Linked DNA regions of Homo sapiens: region 1 is linked to region 2. Evidence: fine-mapped QTL for protein levels in blood plasma. A gene starts in region 2. The other region holds a variant in brackets. All regions are shown on one strand. Distances are between the middles of the regions. Region 1 holds the start of C1R (complement C1r). Region 2 holds the start of C1RL (complement C1r subcomponent like).

Evidence for each region. PIP is the posterior inclusion probability: the model's chance that the variant is causal. Protein levels are from antibody-based Olink assays in UK Biobank. Linkage for the fine-mapping came from a reference panel and not from the study's own genotypes, which makes the PIPs less certain.
Region 1: its variant is fine-mapped to the plasma level of the C1RL protein (UK Biobank, PIP above 0.99).

What each region holds. Positions count from the first base shown.
Region 1 is chr12:7,092,440-7,100,440 of GRCh38, reverse strand. C1R (complement C1r) reads left to right here and starts at 7,996. Exons shown (of 11, transcript NM_001733.7): 1 at 7,996-8,001. C1RL (complement C1r subcomponent like) reads left to right here. Exons shown (of 6, transcript NM_016546.4): 4 at 415-540; 5 at 681-755; 6 at 3,278-5,887. The coding sequence ends at 4,050. RefSeq lists an enhancer at 7,654-7,948. The variant T/C (reference allele first, on the strand shown) is at 3,174.
Region 2 is chr12:7,104,422-7,112,899 of GRCh38, reverse strand. C1RL (complement C1r subcomponent like) reads left to right here and starts at 3,686. Exons shown (of 6, transcript NM_016546.4): 1 at 3,686-3,790; 2 at 4,421-4,649. The coding sequence starts at 3,720. C1RL-AS1 (C1RL antisense RNA 1) reads right to left here and starts at 4,592. Exons shown (of 12, transcript NR_026947.1): 1 at 4,419-4,592; 2 at 3,953-4,227; 3 at 2,753-2,836; 4 at 2,328-2,602; 5 at 1,294-1,875; 6 at 836-893. RefSeq lists enhancers at 3,745-3,824, 4,465-4,634, 3,467-4,666.

The DNA.
Region 1 (8,001 bases), 12 kb after region 2:
TGATAGATACTTTGCTGCCACACATGGTGCTACTGTGCATATCCTTGCATTTACATCTTTGAGCACATGTGTGAGAATATCTTTAGACTAAATTTTTAGAAATGGAGTAGGTTAAAAAATATTTGCATTTTAAATTTTGATATTGCTAAAATTTTCTCCAAAACGGTTTTGCTAATTTACATACCTATCAAACATATATGGAAGTGCCTGTTCCCCCCTACCCTGCTTGTCACAGTTATCTTCAAACTCTTTGAGTGTTGTCAATCTGATCAGTGAAAACGAACTCAAATGTTTTAAAAAAACTAAAAATAAAAAATAAAACACTGTGCAAGTCAAACCAAGTATAGCCATGGGCCAGAATCAGCCCCTGGGTTGCCAGTTGGCAAGTCTGTGCTAGGTGCTGTTTTCCTATAGCTGTGAACTATAGTCAGCCCATCAGCGAGGCCAGCAGGGGCTCTGAGGCCATCAACGCACCTGGAGACAACCCTGCCAAGGTCCAGAACCACTGCCAGGAGCCCTATTATCAGGCCGCGGCAGCAGGTGAGTCCCCACCTGCCGAGGGGTGGCTTCCATCCACCTCATTCCCACCCAAATGCCTGACACCCTCTGAGCACCTGCTTCGTTAACCAACAGCTTCAACTCCGAGCCTATTTCTTTGCCTCTCCTCATTTACGCCACAGGGGCACTCACCTGTGCAACCCCAGGGACCTGGAAAGACAGACAGGATGGGGAGGAGGTTCTTCAGTGTATGCCTGGTGAGTAGCCACCTGCTAGCACCATTCCCCCAACAAGCCTCAGCTGCAACTGGGACCTACAGGACACAGGGGTTAAAGGAAAGCCTTAGAATAGAAAGGAAGATAAGAAGCAGAAGGTGAGGAAGAACAGGGCAATCAAGAAGGCCCAGAAAAGAACAGGCAGGGAGCTTGTTCCTCATTCTTCAGGGGTCAAGATATATCTGAGGAAAAGCATGAAGGACGTTCATGAGATGGACTAGAAAAGGAGGAAGAGAGACCAACAAGCTGAAGTAACAGAAAACCCTCTTTTTGTGCCATACATTTTAAGGATATACCGACAGGCTCTCTATTCCTAAAATATCTCCCTACCTAGATGCCACACAGTGCCAGACAGTCAACCATTTTAAAAAAAATTATTGAGATAAAATTCATGGCTGGGCGCAGTGGCTCACTTTTTTTTTTTTTTTTTTTTTTTTTTTTTGGGATGGAGTTTCTCTCTTGTCGCCCAGACTGAAGTGCAACGGCACAATCTTGGTTCACTGCAACCTCCATCTCCTGGGTTCAAGCGATTCTCCTGCCTCAGCCTCCTGAGTAGCTGGGATTACAGGCACCTGCCACTATGCCCAGCTCATTTTTTTATTTTATTTTATTTTTTTTTTTTTTTTGTATTTTTAGTAGAGACAGGGTTTCACCACGTTGGTCAGGCTGGTCTTGAACTCCTGACCTCAGGTGATCGTCCCGCCTCAGCCTCCCAAAGTGCTGGGATTACAGGCTTGGGCCACTGCGCCCAGCCTTAACCACTTTAAACAGTACAATCCAGTAATGTTTAGTGTGTTCACAATGTTGTGAAACCATTACCACTAATTCCAGAACATTTCCATTACCTTCCCCAAAACAGCCCAGTACCTCCAACTCTCCCCTGACAACCACTAATCTTCTATCTCTATGGATTTGCCTTTATGGATTTTATATCAGTGGAATCATATAATGTGTGGCCATTTCTGTCTGGCTTCTTTCAGTTAGCGTAATGTTTTCAAGGTTCATTCCTGTTATAGCATCCATCAGTATTTCATTTTTATGGCTAAATAATACTCCTTTCTATGGATACGCCATTTTGTTTATTCATTCAACTGATGGACATTTGGGTTGTCTCTATTTCTTGCCTATTATGAATGATGCTGCTATGAGCATTTGTGTACAAGTTTTTATATCAACGTACGTTTCTAAATCTCCTGGGTATATACCTAGCAGTAGACTTGCTGGATTGTATAATAATTCTGTTTAACTTTTTGAGGAACCACCAAACTGTCTTCAACAGCAGCAGCACCAAGTTACATCTCACCGGCAATACATGAGGGTTCAAGCCCACCATTTTTGAGATCCACGCTTTTGAATGAAAGCATTGCCTTCTTTTGTTTTGTTTGTTTGTTTGTTTTGAGACAGAGTCTCGCTCTGTCGCCCAGGCTGGAGTGCAGTGGCGCGATCTCGGTTCACTGCAAGCTCCGCCTCCCGGGTTCAAGCCATTCTCCTGCCTCAGCCTCCCGAATAGCTGGGACTACAGGCGCCCGCCACCACGGCCGGCTAATTTTTTTTTGTATTTTTTAGTAGAGACGGGGTTTCACCGGGTTAGCCAGGATGGTCTCGATCTCCTGACCTCGTGATCCGCCCATCTCGGCCTCCCAGAGTGCTGGGATTACAGGCGTGAGCCACCGCGCCCGGCCGAAAGCATTGCCTTCTTAACCCAATCTGATCCACGGAAAACTCTAAGGGTAGCCTGAACACTCGCAGTGCTTTGGGGATGGTTTGGAGGGCAGGTGGTAGTGGGAGATGTTACAAATGAGGAAGTGACACAAAACTGAGGCAGGAGGCACTGAAACAGACTCTGCCTGTAGTATGGGGGCCCAGGATGGTCCAAACGAATGGCTTTAATGCCTCTGAGGAGGCAGGAAGGAGAGCCCTGCAGAACCAGCCCCAAACATGTGCTCATCTGTGCTCCCTACCCTCAGTCCACTGTCCTGAGTCCCATGCAGGATGGGTGCCCCGTACACTTGGCATTGATTACCTGTCCTTGTCTGCCCACATGGTCTACACCGTGGGTCTGCATCAGTATAAGAGTCCTGATCCCGGCCAGGCGCGGTGCCTCACGCCTGTAATCCCAGCACTTTGGGAGGCAGAGGCGGGTGGAACACTGAGGTCAGGAGTTTCAGACCAGCCTGGCCCACATGATGAAACCCCGTCTCTACTAAAAAATACACAAAAATTAGCCGGGCGTAGTGGTCGGTGCCTGTAATCCCAGCTACTCGGGAGGCTGAGGCAGAATTGCTTGAGCGCAGGAGGCGGAGGTTGCAGTGAGCCGAGATCGCGCAAGTACGCTCCAGTCTGGGCAACAAGAGCGAAACTCGATATCAAAAAAAAAAAAAAAACGTCCTGATCCCAGAG[T/C]CTCTTCACGCGTCCCCTACCACAGCACTTCAGAGAAGCAGGTCTTTAATCAGTGTGTCTAGATGCAGCTGCTGACTGTCACCCCTACCCCGCCTCTCTCCCAGTCTGCGGACGGCCAGTCACCCCCATTGCCCAGAATCAGACGACCCTCGGTTCTTCCAGAGCCAAGCTGGGCAACTTCCCCTGGCAAGCCTTCACCAGTATCCACGGCCGTGGGGGCGGGGCCCTGCTGGGGGACAGATGGATCCTCACTGCTGCCCACACCATCTACCCCAAGGACAGTGTTTCTCTCAGGAAGAACCAGAGTGTGAATGTGTTCTTGGGCCACACAGCCATAGATGAGATGCTGAAACTGGGGAACCACCCTGTCCACCGTGTCGTTGTGCACCCCGACTACCGTCAGAATGAGTCCCATAACTTTAGCGGGGACATCGCCCTCCTGGAGCTGCAGCACAGCATCCCCCTGGGCCCCAACGTCCTCCCGGTCTGTCTGCCCGATAATGAGACCCTCTACCGCAGCGGCTTGTTGGGCTACGTCAGTGGGTTTGGCATGGAGATGGGCTGGCTAACTACTGAGCTGAAGTACTCGAGGCTGCCTGTAGCTCCCAGGGAGGCCTGCAACGCCTGGCTCCAAAAGAGACAGAGACCCGAGGTGTTTTCTGACAATATGTTCTGTGTTGGGGATGAGACGCAAAGGCACAGTGTCTGCCAGGGGGACAGTGGCAGCGTCTATGTGGTATGGGACAATCATGCCCATCACTGGGTGGCCACGGGCATTGTGTCCTGGGGCATAGGGTGTGGCGAAGGGTATGACTTCTACACCAAGGTGCTCAGCTATGTGGACTGGATCAAGGGAGTGATGAATGGCAAGAATTGACCCTGGGGGCTTGAACAGGGACTGACCAGCACAGTGGAGGCCCCAGGCAACAGAGGGCCTGGAGTGAGGACTGAACACTGGGGTAGGGGTTGGGGGTGGGGGGTTGGGGGAGGCAGGGAAATCCTATTCACATCACTGTTGCACCAAGCCACTGCAAGAGAAACCCCCACCCGGCAAGCCCGCCCCATCCCAGACAGGAAGCAGAGTCCCACAGACCGCTCCTCCTCACCCTCTACCTCCCTGTGCTCATGCACTAGGCCCCGGGAAGCCTGTACATCTCAACAACTTTCGCCTTGAATGTCCTTAGAACCGCCTTCCCCTACTTCATCTGTTGACACAGCTTTTATACTCACCTGTGGAAGAGTCAGCTACTCACCCGCTATTAGAGTATGGAGGAAGGGGTTTTCATTGCATTGCATTTCTGAAACATTCCTAAGACCCTTTAGTTGACCTTCAAATATTCAAGCTATTCTGCAGCTCCAAGATGCAATTATAGAAACAGCTCCTTTTTTATTTTATGTCCTCTATATGCCAGGTGCTTCACCTGTTATTTCACTTAATCCTCATACCATATTTGCAAAGGATGTGTTATTATCTATGTGTGACAAATGAGGAAACTGAGGCTCAGGGGATAAAGGGACTTGCCCAAGTCCCACAGCTGGTGTGTGACTGCAGAGACTGTGCTCTTCCCAGTGTGCTGCAATACTTCTCAACCCTCCTCTAACCTGCTGTGTCACCCGCTTTCCCTCCCAGCCCCCACATCCTTACCATTTTCCCTCCCTGGGAATTCCTGCTTCTGCGAAAATGGTATCCTCTAGCTCACACTTTCCTAATGGCCCCATCTCCTGCAGAAGCCAGGTGAGCCCAGCACTGGACTGAAGTTCTTGCAGACACCCCACCTGTGCCCCTATCATCAGGGGAACTGCTCCACCTGAGAGGACCAACTCTTTAATTTTTAGTAAAACCTGGAGGTGATGGGCCGGGCGCAGTGGCTCACGCCTGTAATCCCAACACCTTAGGAGTCCGAGGTGGGTGGATCACGAGGTCAGGAGATCCAGCCCATCCTGGCCAACATGGTGAAACCCCATCTCTACTAAAAATACAAAAATTAGCCGGGCGTGGTGACACGTGCCTGTAGTCCCAGCTACTCGGGAGGCTGAGGCAGGAGAATCACTTGAACCTGGGAGGCGGAGGTTGCAGTGAGCTAAGATCACGCCACTGCACTCCAGCCTGCGGACAGACCAAGACTTCATCCCCCCCAAAAAAAAAAGATTGGAGGTGATTTACAGTGAAAGACACAAATAAAATACAACTGTTCAATGGAAATAGAAAATAAACACCATAAAAGAGAGAAGAGAGGTAATTTGTTAGCATCAAGAGTCAAGTTGCTATATGGTCAAAGGTTAAATTTATCTCTAAAAAATGGCAGGATTCAAAGTTGTACATACATGTGATTACTTCTGTTTTTTACACCCACATACAGTACAAAAGATTATTAAAAATATTCCCAAAAGGCAGGTGCAATGATGCACACTTATACCCCCAGCCACTCAGGAGGCTGATGCAAGAGGATCGCTTGAGCCCAGGAGTTGAAGTCCAGCCTAAGCAACATAGTGAAACCCCATCGCCAAAAATATAATAATAATTCTCTCAAAATACTAAACAGAGGTGGTTTTATTGATAAGATTTTGGCTGTTTGGTTTTCCACTATTCTCTATTGGCTAAAATTTGTTTAATGAGCATGAAATGTTTTTATTTTATTTTGCTTATTTTTATGATTGCAAAAAATGATATGAGTTTCTCCCTGCCAAGGCAAAAAAATATATATATACCTATATTTATATGTGTATGTCTAGATCTATATCTCTACATCTCCATCGCTGTCTCTGTCTAGAGATAGAGATATCGACAATGAGAGAGAGAGGGAGGTAAGAGATAGAGATGATGGAGATAGATGAGCTAGCGATAGAGACATATCCACAGAGGAAAACCTACCACTACTTTAAGAGAGAAATCTTTTTCCCAAGAATCAAATCCTTAAAGGAACAAACACTGTAACCGACTATATCCTCAATAATTGTTTTAAAACAAACGCAGCAGCATTTCATATGGCATTTTTTTCCTTCTTGGTATGAGTCAAGGACAAAACAAAGTCAAGGACATAACAAAAATGTGTGAGTAAAGGTTATTTTGAATGGTTGGGCAGAGTGGAGACAGGGCTGGGACTGAGCTAATGACATCCAGGTTTGCCGCTCTCCAAGCGTGTTGCACAATGCCAACGCAGAACTGAGAATCCCTAGGATGGACGGAAGAGCTTCAGCTAAGACTTACCTCCTTACCTGTTCCCTCTGCCTCCATTATGAACATACGGCACATGCGCGCGTGCACACACACACACACACACAAACTGCTGCTAGGATATTAATGTGCAGTTTGTTAGACGAGATTCCCCTTCCTTCTCGTCCTCTGATCTGGTGCTTTTCCTTCTCCCCCATCTTTTGTCTTTCCTGATCTAACAAGGCTGTGGATCATATGCTGATCCCATCACAGACCAGCCCTCCGTTAGGTTCAGTCCTCAGCTCTGACACACAGGCCTGCTGGAGAAACCCTCCAAGCGTTGGTGGATCTTGCACCTTCTGTGTGCCTGCTGTCTAACTACTGATGATGTGGTCACTGCCTGATGGGGAACTGCATCAGCTCTGTGAATTCTTGCAATCTATTGCCTGGGAAAGTGTCTTGCACATTAAACAGGTAGCCCATAAATGGATGAACGGGGGTGGGGGCAGAAGGGTGGAGGTTGGAGGGATTCATCTAATAAGGGAAACAAGCAGAACAGCCTACAAAGGCTTAAGAACGCAGAGTCCTGCTCTGCAGCCCAAGCCCCTCCGTGGGATGAAGTGCCATCAGATATTTGGTGCCATGGAGAGTTGATGAAGAAAGCCTTCCAAAAACAATGAAATTGTTTTTTAATTTATTTTAACTTTTAGAGACGAGATCTCACTATGTTGCCCAGGCTGGTTTCGAACTCCTGGGCTCAAGAGATCTTCCCACCCTGGCCTCGAAAAGTGCTGGCATCACAGGCATGAGCCACCACACGTGGCCAAGAGCAAAAGTTTTAAAGCAGGACACTATGGCCTGATGGACAGGAGAGACTAGGGTCCCTCCTCCCTCCCAGGGGCCTGGCTTCATCTCAGAAAAACCGAGTCCCTCTTGCTCCACACCCGCATCCTTAGCTTCAGCCCTGGCAGTTGTGTTGAGCAGATGCTAAGGAGATGGGGACATTTTACCCCCTCCGCAGCCGCCCCAGAGGGTCTCAAACCCAGGGCTGATTTAGGGTTGCCCTGACATGGCCAACCCTATTCTATGTCCAAGTGTCATTCATGGCTAAAGCAGGCCAGGGCCCCAAGGCAACCAAGCTCCTCTCTCCTCTGCCCGCTCCCACACACCCTCCTCTGCCCCAGTGTTCCTATCATTACGTCCTGGGCATTGAAACCCGGGCCATTCTTGGACCAGGGCTGTGGGCTGAATGAGGGCAGGAAGAACAGGGTCAATGGGAAAGGACAGCCCAGAAAAGAGAATTCACCACCACCTGTGGTCTCCCACTGCTTTGGTAGGAACCTTGTAAACACAGCAGCAGCCCCCAGGAAAGTCTTGGAAGAAGGGAGAAGCTGATCAGATTTAGAGACTGAGACATCTGGGCCTCCAACCCAAGGCTCCCCGGGCCCTAAAAAGCCAGACTCCCGTCTCCTTAGCCCTTTCCCTCACCGACCAGCAGGTGGCACCACAAACAGGGATTTCAAAACCAAAACTAAATTAAAGTGGAAACTCAGATCTTTTGTTTATGCAAATAGTTCATTCCCTCCAACATTCCTCCGGGAATGGTCCCCCCTCCACTCCACAGAAAACCCTCCCCTCCCTGCTGTGCATGACGCGGGCTCCCTCTGCACACAG
Region 2 (8,478 bases):
CGGGGAACTTAACTGGTTTTAGTGTTGAAAACCTCATGTCCTAGGAAAACCTCATTTCTAGACAGACCAGGATGATTTCTAATAGGTTACCCTATTAGAAAAAAGTCCCCCCAAATTCAGACATCCATTTTCATTTCTACATCGGCCTTTCAGCTATACTTCTTTGCTTTTTTCTACTAGTAGTCACCCTAGGGCAACTGTTCTCAAACTTTATACCCTTAAAAAATTATTGAGAACTCCAGAGAGCTTTGGCTTATGTAGGGTATATCTATTAATAGTCACTGTACTAGAAATCAAAATTGAGAACATTTTAAATCACAAAGATACACAAGCACGCATCCCGCTCACTGCCACGGATGAATCATTGCACATCACGTAGCCTCTGTAAATCCACCATATACCATGACAGAATGAGAGGGAAAAAAGCAAAGAACATCTGAGTATTTTTATGAAAGTCATTTTGTTACCTCACAGACCCCGTGAAAGGATCTTAGGGCCTGTGGGTCTTCCCACACCACAGGGTGGAGACCCGCTGCTCTGGGAATTAGTCTGCATCCTAAACTCCAGTTTTCTCAGTTCCTATTGTACCACTTCATGTGAAATGAAGGAAACTTGTAACCATGAGTCCACCCCCTTGTCCTCTATACCAGCAGTCCCCACCCTTTTTGGCACAAGGGACTGGCTTCATGGAAAACGGTTTTTCCACAAACCAGGGATGGGGCCAGAGGGAGATGGTTTCAGGATAGTTCAAACACATTACATTCATTGCATGTTTTCTTTCTATTATTATTGTTATTGTAATATATAATGAAATATTAATAATTATACAACTCACCGTAATGTAGAATCAGTGGGAGCCCTGAGCTTGTTTTCTTGCAACTAGACGGTCCCATCTAGGGGTGATAGGAGACAGTGACAGGTCACCAGGCATTAGATTCTCATAAGGAGCACACAGCCTAGATCCCTCCATGCATAGTTCACAATAGGGTTCGTGCCCCTATGAGAATCTAATGCTGCTGCTGCTGCTGCTGCTGACAGAAGACGAAGTTCAGATGGTAATGTGAGTGATGGGAAGCAGCTACAAATACAGATGAAGCTTTGCTTGCTCACCACCACTCACCTCCAATACTGGTCCACGGCTCAGGGGTTGGGGACCCCTGCTTTATACTACAGTCTTCATATATGTTACAGCTACATATGTTATAAACCTCACAATACAATGTTATAATTTTTGCCTGGAACAGTTCTACATATTTTAAAGACATTAAAAAGAAAATCGTATTTTATATTTACCTTCAAATTTACCGTTCTTCTTATTCCTGTCTGCAGCTCTGCTCTTCCAATTTGAGACAGCGTCTCACTCTGTCACCCAAGCTGGAGTGCAGTGGCACCGTCATGGCTCACTGCAGCCTCCATCTTCCGAGCTCAAGCAATCCTCCCACCTTGGCCTCCCAAAATGCTGGGATTATAGGCGTGAGCTATCGTGCCCGTCCTAAAGAACTTTCTTTAGCGCTTCTCATAGTGGAGGTCTGCTGGCGACAAGAATCTCTGTTTTCTTTTATCTGAAAATAGCTTTATTTCATCTTCATTCTGGAAGAATACTTTCACTAGAAAAACAATTCTGAGTTGACTTTTTTTTTCCTTCAGCATTTTAGAGATATTCCACTGTCTTCTGGTCTATATTGGTTTTGATGAGAAAAGAGTGACATTGAAAATATTGTTCTGTCTAGTCTTTAGGATGGGATTAAAAAAAAGAAAAGATTTTCTCTTGTCTTTGGCTTTTAGCAGTTTGACCATGATGTGCCAAGGCATGCCCTTTTTTTCATTGACCACTCTGCCAGTTAGAGACGAGGTCCCAGTGTAGGGGAGGTGGTGCTGAAAACACAGCGGGGCACAGCTCAGCCCTAGCCCACAGGGGCCTGCAGTGACCAGCTATGCACAGAGCCATCAGCTCCTTCTCCAGTCTCACATCACCAGCCATTCCTCCCCTTGCCCTTGACCCTAACTCATGCTGCAGCCGCACACGCCACCTAGGTGAGACCAAGGTGGGCCCTCATCTTCAGAGTGCTGGATTACCCCAAACAGGGACCACATCCAGACCCTGGACTGCCCAGTCACCTGGGGCTGCCGGTGCATCACTGCCTCCCCACCCTCTTGGCTCCCTGTCCTCTTTCTCACCCAGCCTCACTCCAGCACTTTAACCCCTATCCATTTAGGGTGACCACCAGTCCTGGCTTGCCCAGAACTTCCCTCATTTTAAAACGGAAAGCCTCATGTCCTGGGAAACCCGTCGGTCCCACGCAAATCAGAACAGTCGGTCACCCTACCTGTCCTGGAGTTTCCTTCCAAGGCCTTACTCCTCCCTCCTCCAGCTCATCTCCAGGAAAGTCTTCTCAGATGGGCTAGCCTGAGTTTTCCAGTTCCTGCCCCTCTTAGCAAACAAGGAAATAATGCTCTGAAGGGAAACGAGGGGTGGACTCCCCAATCCTGATCTGAGTCTTGGCTGGTTTCTTCTTAACACATGGGTCTTGGGATTGGTACCATTGTTCACTCTTTGGCTGCATCTCTGGCTCCCAAGGTGCTCCAGGTGACCCTAAGAGTTCTATGAGAGAGCAGGTTTCAGTGGTCTCAGGGGAGGAAAGAAGTCCTAGTCAGAGAGGCCCACTCCTCGAAGATGGGTATGGGAGATCATCCCCAGTTGTGTTTGGGGTTGGGGTGTGGCAGACAGGTAGGCTTGATCTCAAGACTGTACCTGAGACATTGCATCTGTCCTGGCCATCACTCTCTTATCATCTCCTTGTAGCCATAGACTGTGGCTCTCCTAAATCTCTCTAGCCTAGAAAAACCAAAGATGCAGAGCACACCCTGTTTGGGTCTGTAACTTGCCTCCATATTACTATATGCAAAATGGGGGAAGCAATAGATTCTTCTCTGAGAGGTGTGTGTGCGCGCGCACATGCATTTGTGTGTGCATACAACGTAAGGCCTTCCACACACCTGCCTTCTCTGAGGATGGGACCACCCATCTCCATAAGAGCCTTCTGGCCTCCTACCAAGCTGTGGGTGAGTGTCCTTCCTCGGGGAGCGGTGAGAGCAGGCAGGGGCTCTAGTATCTGCCTAAAGAAGCTTGAGTGACGGCTTGAGTGATGACTGGGACTAGGGACTGAGGGACACCTGGGCTCGACCCCAGCCCTGACCATGCTGGACAAGCAGCCTCCAGAGGTTGTGAATAGGATTCAAAAGACCACCTAAGCGCATGTCCCCCACCCCTGCTTGGGGAGGAGGGAAAGGAAGAGAAAGCTCAAGTTCAAGGATCACAAACTTCAATTCTACAAGAGGGAGGCTCCCCGGGTATGTCGTGAACGGAAAGGTCGGGGAGGAAGAGACATGGCTGATTGAAGGCAGCAGCCATAACTCACAAGGAGCCATCCTACACACATGGCAAAAATTAATGTTAAATAGTACAAAAGGGTCGAGTCAGTGCCCTGCCACCCTGACCTCTGAGGGCCAGCGAGGTTTTTGGACGTTTCTCCCCTAAGCTGCGGCGGGCCCGCTGTTCCTGAGTCAGACGGCAGGTGGCGCTCAGCCCGGAGAATTGGAGAAGGGGAACTGTGGAGTTGCTTAACATTTCCAGGAACTTCCTCCTCCCCCACCGGCCTTCACCTTTTGTTCCCTATCCTGGGCCAGTTCTCTCGCAGGTCCCAGATGTCCAGTTCCAGATGCCTGGACCCAGAGTGTGGGGGAAATATCTCTGGAGAAGCCCTCACTCCAAAGGCTGTCCAGGCGCAATGTGAGTGTGGCCCCGGCAGAGGAGGAGGGAAGAGGACGGGAGGGGAAGAGAAAGGGTGGGTGGCCGCAAACCCTCCCTCCCCCCACCCTACCCCCCCCACACACACATCCCCCCCCCCCCCACACACACACACACACACACACCTCCCCCACATACACACACCAGCAGCAGCAGCAGCAGCAGCACAGCAGATATTCCATGGGGAGACTGAAATTTGCCTGTGGCCTCTAGCACCTTCCCAGAGGGTGGTCGGGGGATATTTACGGCAGACCCTCACTCGCCCCACCATTGCTCCCTCGGATCCCAGGGTGGGGTGGGATCTGCTGAAGCAGAAAGCACCCCCCTCCTTTGGACGAGACTCTCCTGGGAGATGAGCAAAGGTGATGTCTTCGGAGGATGGAAAACCCACAATCCTAGAGCTCAGGCTGCGCGGGAGGCTGTAGGGATTGGGGTGAGGAAGGGGAGCAAGGGAGGAGACGGGAAGTGCCCGGGCCTCAAGGGTGAGGCCACAGCTTCTAGCCCTGCCTCGCGAGGCCTCTGAGTCCTAGCGCGGCTCCCCCGCTCCTCCCACACCCACAGGCTTCCGGCCATAGCTGCGCGGCCCCACCTTGCCCTCCCCCCAACTCACAGGTGGTGGCTGCTTCTCTGGGGAGTCCTCCAGGCTTGCCCAACCCGGGGCTCCGTCCTCTTGGCCCAAGAGCTACCCCAGCAGCTGACATCCCCCGGGTACCCAGAGCCGTATGGCAAAGGCCAAGAGAGCAGCACGGACATCAAGGCTCCAGAGGGCTTTGCTGTGAGGCTCGTCTTCCAGGACTTCGACCTGGAGCCGTCCCAGGACTGTGCAGGGGACTCTGTCACAGTGAGCTGGGGATGGGGGGGGTCCCGCCAGGACTGTGGCCAGGGAGATTCCCGGGGTTGTGGGAAGTGGCGGTGCCCTGAATCCCCCATCTGGAGGAGGGATGAATTTTCCATGTAGGGGCAGTCGGGCTTGGCTTACCGGGGAGCAGTGGTGGACCCCAGGACACAGCCTCCCACCAGCGCCTCCGGGGCTGCCATCTGGGCCCCACAGAGCAAAGAGGGCAGCAAGCAGGCCCTGCGTTTGGAAGGCTTATGAATGGACACACAAATCTTGCAAATCTATGGAGCCAGGGGCAGGGACGCACATATTGGTTGTTAAAAATATGTCATCATGTATTTGTTGAGTGCCTGCTCTATCAGGTGAGGAAGCTGGACACAAATAATAACAAAAGATTAAGTCACCGTTCACACTTACCTTGGAAGAGCTATTACAAAACTTCTAACGCCAAAGCCTTATTCAGAATAAGGACATTTTAAAAACAGTACTTGATGGAGTGATGCAAGCTTGCAGTCCCAGCAGTATAGTCAGGAGACTGAGGCTGGAGGATCAGAGGGCTGGAGCCCAGGGTTCAAGGCCAGCCTAAGCAACATAGCAAGACCCCATCTCAAAAATAAGTAAATAATAAATAAAAATAAAAAGAGCACATTATCTTTTGATTTAAATTTTATTTATATCAAAATGACATAAATTTTTGAACTTTATTTTTTAATTTTAAAATTTTTAATTATTATGGATACATAATAGTTGTAAGACTTTTTGTTTTTTAATTAAAGTTTTCTAAGGCTGGGCGCAGTAGCTCATGTCTGTAGTCCCAGCACTTTGGGAGGCTGAGGCGAAAGAAGCACTTGAGCCCAGGAATTTGAGACCAGCCTGGGCAACATAGCAAGACCCCATCTCTACAAAAAAATTTAAAAATTAGCCAAGTGTGGTGGCACGCACCTGTGGTCCCAGCTACAAGGGACGCTGAAGTGAGAGGATCACTTGAGCCTGGAAGGTAGAGGCTGCAGTGAGCTCTGATCATGACACCGTACTCCAGCCTGGGTGACAGAGTGAGACCCTGTCTCCAAAAAAAAAAAAAGGTTTTTAAAAAGGTTTATGAATAACAGCAGTCTCCAAGCTGTTCCTCCCCGCCCCTGAGTGCTGCTCCTCAGGAGCAGTCATTTGCCAATTCATGTAGCTGTTTCATCTGGTCTTTAACTTCATATGTATAAATAACATGCTTATTTGTCTTTCATTTTTACGTATTTTCTATTAATGCTCAACTACAGTATAGAAGATAAGGACTAGCTTTATCTGTCTTCAGTCTTCACCACCCACATTTCCCCTCCTCATTCTGCCAGTTTACCTATATTATCATTTTTAGTTAAATCTTTATTCATTATTTACATTATTATGACTGTAAAATATTCACATCTGAGCACATAGCATAAAATAATTATATTTCTTTTCTTCTCCAACTTTTGGGTTTCCTAGGAGTCAATAGTTACATGGAGTTTTTTTGTTTTGTTTTGTTTTGTTTTTTGGTGGGGGGTGTTTGTTTTTGTTTTGCTTTTTAGTTTGCTTAGTTGTCTCTGTAACTAATCTCACCAGACTCTTAACCAGGAGTGTAAATCTTCTTCTGAAATACTCAAGCATGAATTTCAGTCTATCGGTCCTCCTTTTAATTGGTGACATCCCTCCTGAAGATCTCTCGATTTATTTTCACAGCCTGAGTTCTTTGCTCTCTAAGCCGTCACACATTCTGGGAGTTCTCTTCTCCCTCTTTCTGGGGATTTCCTTTACCTGTGCTGAACCTGAATCCCATACCTTTCTCTTTTTTGGTTTACTCTCCCATTTTGGAGGAGCACCTTCACCAGTGGCTTCCTTAGAAAGGGTATTTTAGAGTGAATTTTAGAAGATCTTATATATGTCTAAATGTCTCAGTTCTACCCTCACAGTGGAGGGATAGTTGATCTGGGTATAGCATTCTAGATTGGAAACCTTTTTCTTCCAGAATTTTGATGATATTGTCTTCTAGGTCTAGACTTTGTTAAGAAGTTTGATGCCCTTATCATTCCTAATCCTTTGTTTTCTCTCTCTAGAACTTTTGGAATATTTTCCTTATTACCAGTATTCTGGACTTTCATTATGATGTCTCTTGATACACGTGGTTTTTTACTCATTGTGCAGATTTCTTTTAATCTAGAGCCTCTTTTAATCTAGTCCTTCAATTCTAGGAATGTTCTTGTGCTATTTTTTAAATAATTTCCAGATATCTCATTTCCTTAGTTTCTCTTTCTCCTATAATTCAGCTGTTGTATGTTCTAGATTGATTCTCTAGCTTTGTTATCTGTTTTGTTCTATTTACCATCTCTTTTGTTCTGCCTCCTGGGAAATTTTCTCATCTTTAAATCCCCATCTTTTAGTTAATGGTTTCTTTCCACTGACATATTATTTCATTTCTAAGGATTCGTTCTAATTTTCTAAATGTGCCTTTTTATAGAGTATTGTTCTTGTTTCATTGATGCAGTATCAACTCCTTTCCCTCCTTTGGGATTATTTTTAGATGTTTCTTCTGTTCTCTATAGTGGGTCTATTTCATCCAAGTTCTTTTTTACCGTTTGTCTGTTTTGGTCTCTGCTTTTTGTGTTAGAGACTTTCCTACGATATCTGATAATACTTGGCTGTCCATTCATATTTAAGGCCGGGCGCAGTGGCTCACATCTGTAATCCCAGCACTTTGGGAGGCCGAGGCAGGCAGATCACCTGAGGCCAGGAGTTTGAGACCAGCCTGGCCAACATGGTGAAACCCCGTCTCTACTAAAAATACAAAAATTAGGCAGGCATGGTGGTGTACGCCTGTAATCCCAGCTACTTGGGAGGCTGAGGCATAAGAATCGCTTGAACCTGGGAGGTGGAGGTTGTAGTAAGCCGAGATCAGGCCACTGCACTACAGCCTGTGGGGTGCAGAGTGAGTCTCTGTCTCAAGGAAAAAAAAAAAAGAGTGGAGCACTAAAATACTGATTGGAAGTTCTGTGTGGATAGCTAAAATTTGTCAAATGATAGGTTTGAAAATAGGGTTATCGACAAGGTGACCTAGATGTGCCACTGGGGGCCTCCCAACTGTCAGGATGTAAAAGCATTTTATTTGGGGGCAGCCAGTTTCCCCTGAGAGGACTCCTGCAGATTCCAGCTCAGGGACCCCAGCATTCTGGTCAACAAGCTGAGAAAAGGGCCTGGTGGAGGGAGATGCAGCTCACTGTTTGGCAGGTAGACTTTCACTTAATCCTTCTGTTTTTGGTACAGTGAGTCCTCACTTAAAATCATCCATAGGTTCTTGGAAAGTATGACTTTAAGAGAAATAACATAGAATGAAACCAATTTGGCCATAGAGCTAATTGATATAGACAAGAGTGAAGTTTCTACAGCAATTACTGATCACAGAAACATCACCAAACCTCTAAATAAAGACCCCAAACACTTCTAATATTAAATATTGAAATACATGTGAACTATGCCTACATGTAAGAAAGGTTAATAAAAACGAATAAGATTATTTACCCAATTATTCCAGTTTGGGGTCACGGGTGGCCACAGCCTGTTGCAGCAGTTCAGGATGCAAGGCATGAACCAGTGCTGGACAGGACACCATCCTGTTTCAGGACGCACTCACACACTCATACTCACTCACACTGGGACCGTGGAGACATACCAGGTCGCCTAGCAGGCACAGCTTGGGATGTGGGAGGAAACCAGAGGACCTGGAGAAAACCACTGAAGACATGGGAAGAATGTGCAGACTTCACCCAGAGAGTGGCCCCGGACACGGGGCAATATTTTTTCTCGTCAA